Linked DNA regions of Homo sapiens: region 1 is linked to region 2. The links come from fine-mapping of genetic effects on gene expression. Tissue or cell type: whole blood. Region 2 holds a variant in brackets; the other region holds the start of a gene. All regions are shown on one strand. Distances are from middle to middle.

Region 1 (2,500 bases), 130 kb before region 2:
GTTCTGGAGAAAGGAAATATGGGTAGACTAGTAGGGAGTGTGAGAAGCTGGGGTACGAAACAGATTGCTCTGGGCCTTGATGGATGAGTAGGAGTTTGTCAGGTAGAGAGGTGGGAGGGCATGGCAGGCACAGGGAAAGGCAGAGGCTGGGCACTGAAACAGTCATCACTGGGTTGGGGATGTGAGCAGGGTGGGTGGGTGGTGGAGGAGACTGGAACAGGGCTGTGAGGAGCCTTGCAGGCCACCCTTTCACGCCATTCTGACCCTTCTGCATTCAGAGGCATTCTCTGGAGATGGCTGTGTGTGGGAGCCAGAGAAGGCAGGCACATTCATTTGACACCTACTGAATGCCAGGCACCGGTAAAGAGCTCATACCCATGATCTCTTTGGTTTCTCACCCAAGTTGGGGATAGAGACTCGTGGTGTCCCCATTTTACAGGTGGAGGAATGGGGCTCAGAGAGGGACAGTCTTTTGTCTGTAACCACAGAGCCAGGAGAGGCAGGGCTGGTACGCAGTTCAGGTTCATCCCACTCCAGAGACTGCATTTAACCCCCGTTCAGCCAGAGGCTAGAAGACACCTGGGAGAGGGTTCTGCGGAAGCAGGTCACCGGGAGGGGGCACCCATTCCTAGAGGCAGGAGCCCCAAGTTCTCGGGGGTGGGGTGGTTCCTGACTGGCGCGGTGTGACCCGGGCCAGTCTCGTTCTCTCTGGGCCTCAGTTTCCCTCCTCCACGGGGCGGCGATGGTCAACACAGGTTCCTGCCGGCCCGCCCCGTAGCCTGGGGTTCCAGGCTCCCGTGCCACCGCGGCCCGCGCTGTGTGACCTTGTTCCAGTAGCCTGCCCTCTCTGGACTGGCGGCCCCGGATTTCCAAGCGCTCTTCCGGATCGCGACAGAGCGGTCGCCCGCTGCGGAGACCCTCCCCCTTCCCCCGGGTTGCGGGGGCGTGGGTGGGGGTGGGGCGCCAGGAACGGCGCGGGCCCCCCCAAGGCCCCCCCAGCCCCGCGCCCGCGGCCCGATCCGCGCCTGGTTTTGGGCGCAGCCGCACGGCCCCCTCCCCCGCGCTCCTCTCCCCTCTCCCCGCCCCCTCCCCGCCGCTCTCGGGGAGCCGGGGCCGCACGGCTCCTCCTCCCGCAGCCGCATCTGGGGCGCCGCGCCGGCCGGAGGAGAGGCATGGGGCGCCCGCGGGCCGGAGCCGGGGCGGGGGCCGGGGCCTAGGCGCGCGGACCTGCGAGCGGACCCGAGAGGCGGCGGCGGCGCAGCGGAACGGCAGAGCGGGCCGGAGGCGGCCGAGGCGCCCGGCGCAGGTGAGGGCGCGGGGGTGGCGCGCGGCGGCTCCTACCCCCTTCCCGGGCCGGCGCGCTCCGTCCCTCGGCTAGACCCCCCGATCTGGTCTCCTCCCCGACAGACCTCCCTGAACCGGGGGACGGCGCTGGCGCAGAAAAGCCCCCTCCCCTGCCAGTTCTGTCTTCCGATCCCGGGTCCGAGGGGCCGGCTGTGCGGCTGGGAAGCGCCTTCTCCGGTTGGGATCGCCCCATCCATGTCTCCCCGGACCCTCAAATCGGGGGCGGCGGCACCGGGGCCCGGAACCCCTGTCCGGGACCGGATCCCCATTCCGGCTCTTTTTCCCGCGGACTCCCCCGTACCCCATATCAAGCGGCTGCCAAAGCCTGGAAGCCCCCTCCTCAGGCCCGCCCCCTAATCCGCAGGGCGGCCTGGGGGTCAGGCGGACCCCTCCCGTGCCCGGCCAACCTTGGCGCTTGGGAGAGCAGGGCTATGCCGGCCCGGGCATTCCTCCATTCAACCCAGCTGCCTCGGATCCCGTCTCGGTAGACCCGGGAGCCGCCGGCTCCCCCCTTCCCGAGCTCTTTCCCTGACCTGGCATCTGGGGAGGGGGCGGGGGCAGCACCCCCCTCCCGCGCTGCATAGCGCCCCCTCCCTGTTTGCGTCCCTGGGAGGGGCTGGGCTGACCCGGGCACCTGGGCTGGGGGGGCACTCACATGGCTACCGGAGGCCCCCACGTGCGGCGCCCCGCGGAGACAGGGGTTCGCGTTCAGAGCTGGTGGCGGATGGACCAGGTGGCCGCGGGGACCAGCTGGGTCCAGATGTGCTGGGCCTGCTGGAAGGGGACAGGTGCTACCTGGACGTGTAATGGCCCTTGGTCTCTTTTGGCCGAACCTGCCGCTCCGATCCCCCTCCATCCCTTCATCCCTCCATCCCTCCATCCCTCCATCCCTCCGGCCCTTCTCCCCTTCTTCCTCCGCTGCCTGTGTTGCAGAGAGGGGCTGTCAGAGACTGTTGATGTGGGAAAAAATGAAATGGGGGAGGGGTTGTGATTGGCAAAGGCCAGTTGTGCCGGGAGCGGTGGGTAGAGGAGGTGCCCTGAGAATGGGAAGCCCTAAGCTTGGAGGGCAGCGCTGATGGGGAGAGGGTTCCTGGCACCCCCACCTGCCTGGAAGTGGAAATGACATAGCGGGAGGGGGCTGCAGTTCCAGCCCCCG
Region 2 (2,754 bases):
CTGTGCATCACAGATGGTCAAGGCCTCCAAAAGCTGGGTGAACAATGGGTGGGCTGAGCCCTGTCTGCTCCCCACTCCCCACCAGGAGTCTGGACCGCCTGGATTCAGTGGACATGCTGCTGCCCTCCAAGTGTCCGAGCTGGGAAGAGGACTACACCCCCGTCAGCGACAGCCTCAACGACTCCAGCTGCATCAGCCAGGTGAGGGTGGCAGGGAGGCTGGAGAGTCAGGGGGCTTGGGTACTGATTCCCATCTGGGAGGAGGACACACGCCCAGGCCCAGCCCATGCTGAGTGGCCCCCAGATGTCTGCACTGTGCTTCTGTTTGGTCCTTGTTCCTGAAGCCTCCTGTGTGTGTCTCTGCCCCACCAACTGTCCTGTGGCTGGAGAGCACAGTTACGGGGCCTGACCCAGGACCCCACACCACCACTGTAAACACAGGCTGCCAGCGGGGCGCCTGTCACTTCTCATTGGGTTCAGAACCATGAGGATAAGGAACTGGAGACCTAGGTTCGAGTCCCAGTTTTGTCACTTGACAGTATGAACCCAGGATAGTCACCTCCCCTCCCTGAACCTCGGTTTCCTGATTTACCAGAGGAGGGTGAGCATTTCTATCTGGGGGCTGTTGAGAGGAATAAGTGGGATCGTGAAGGCGGTGTGCTCAGCAGAGGGTAGCTGCCTTCCTGGTTATTATTAGCATCTTTTGTGACCTCCAGCAAGTGACTGCTCACTTTGAACCTCTGTGCCACCTACTCAGTGGGCAGTTGTGCTCCCAGGCGCAGCCAGCCCTGCCTGTGTCAGTGAGGAGCATACTGGGCTGAACGTTGAATTTGCATGCCACCCTCTCAACCATCAGCTCCTTGAGCCCTTAACCACCCCCAGAGGTGGCCTTGTTATCCATATCCCCATTTCATAGGTGAGGCAACTGAGGCTCAGAGAGGTGAAGTCATCATGCAGCTAGGAGAAGACAAAGTTGGGCAGGGATCTGGGGCTGTCCAGCCCAGACCTGGACCTCAGCTCCTGCCGTGTACTCGGCACTTTAGGGTTTGCAAAGGGAGAACCAGGCAGGACTAAAAGGCACCCCCCATCGTGTGGATGGGGAGATGAGCCCCCCGAGAAGGCAGACACCTACTGGTAGTAGCAGTTAGGCAGTGGGGCGGCCAGGTGCGGGTCCAGCCTCCTCTCAGCAGGAACAGGCCACTGTGTGCAGGCCCAGGACCACGGCTAGAGGACTGCTTAGAAGGCTTTGGGACCCCGACTCCTCACAACTCCATTATTCCTGGCCTAGCCAAGCTCCTTCCCCAGCCCCTCAGACATGGGGAGGGGTAGAGTGCCGCAGCCCAGGGAGCCCCCTGCCCCTGCCCCCCTCATCCAGACTCCACCAAGTCACACCTGAACAGCCGTCCTCCAATCCATACTCAGTGGCCAGAGGGAGCTGTCAGAGCCACACCCCTGCTCCAGACCCTCCCTTGGCTCCCACCTCCC[C/A]CTGAGGGAAAGCCAGAGTCCTTACCTGGACCTGTGAAGCCCTGTAAGACCTAGGCCCTGCCTCCCTGTTGGATCCTGTCCCTTGCCCTGCTCCAGCCATGCCGGCCTCCTTTCTGCTCCTTATATACGAGTGTGCCATGTCATTCTGCTCCAGGCCCTCTGCATTTGCTGTTTCCTCTTCCAGGGGCTCTCTTCTCAAATCTTTGCACAGCTGGCTCCTCCTGGCGTTTCAGGTCTCTGCTCGAATGTCACTTCCTCAGAGAGGCTGCCTGTGATCACTTGTCTAAAGTAGCCTTCCCAGGCGCTGTTCCCTTACCCTGCTGTTCCCTTACCTTATCACTGCCTGGAACTAGAATCATTTGCTTATTTACTTAATGCTGTCTCCCTCTTAAAACTAGGATCTCCTGGGAGCGGAGGCCTTGCTGTCTTGTTCCCTGCAGTGTCCCCAGTACCTGGCACAGTGCCTGGCACAGGGCAGATGCTTAGTAGGTGTTTGCTGAATGGACGGCATCCCTCCCTGTCTCTCCCATCCCACCACGTTTTCTCGTCTCAGTCTTCCTGTCTGTGTCTGTCTCCGTCTGTTTCTCTCTCTCTGTTCTCTCTCCCCTCATTCACATTTTTCTCTGATTCTCTCCAGCGTGTCTCCATCTCCATGTCTCTCTCTGTGTCTGTCTGTCTCTCTACACATCCCATCTCCACCCCCGCCTGGGCCTGGCACCCAGGACACCTTTGTCCTTTAACTACACAAAAAGGCTTATTAATCGGCCAGGCTGGGGGCCGCAGCAGGTCTCACCCACCACCCGCTGCCCAGTCCCAGTTCTCTCCTAGTCCAGGATCCTCTGACCCCTCACAGCCTCAACTCTAGAAGTTTGAGTGACCCAAGCCATATATTTGGCCCCAAAGTCAGAGATATTCTAGCCTGGGGAAGAGCAGGCTCTGGGCTCCATCCCTAATCTGTATCTCCAGGTGGGCTGCCTGCCAGATGAGAGGCAGCAGACAGAGGATCCATGGTCCCAGGGCCCAGACCTAAAGAAGGACTTTTATTTATTTATTTATTTTGAGATGGAGTTTCGCTCTTGTTGCCCAGGCTGGAGTGCAATGGCGCGATCCCAGCTCACTGCAACCTCCGCCTCACGGGTTCAAGCAATTCTCCTGCCTCAGCCTCCCTAGTAGCTGGGATTATAGGCATGTGCCACCATGCCCGGCTAATTTTGTATTTTTAGTAGAGATGGGGTTTCTCCATATTGGTCAGGCTGGTCTCGAATTCCCA

What was found. PIP is the estimated chance that this variant, and not a neighbour inherited with it, causes the effect.
Region 1: it holds the start of DLGAP4, and the variant in region 2 is fine-mapped to the expression of DLGAP4 in whole blood (TOPMed, PIP 0.95).

The regions. Positions count from the first base shown.
Region 1 is chr20:36,305,207-36,307,706 of GRCh38, forward strand. DLGAP4 (DLG associated protein 4) reads left to right here and starts at 1,133. Exons shown (of 13, transcript NM_001365621.2): 1 at 1,133-1,306.
Region 2 is chr20:36,439,669-36,442,422 of GRCh38, forward strand. It overlaps DLGAP4 (DLG associated protein 4), which reads left to right. Exons shown (of 13, transcript NM_001365621.2): 5 at 86-200. Among named protein-coding and RNA genes, the nearest start is that of MYL9, 100 kb to the right of the region's middle. RefSeq lists a silencer at 1,807-2,004. The variant C/A (reference allele first, on the strand shown) is at 1,485.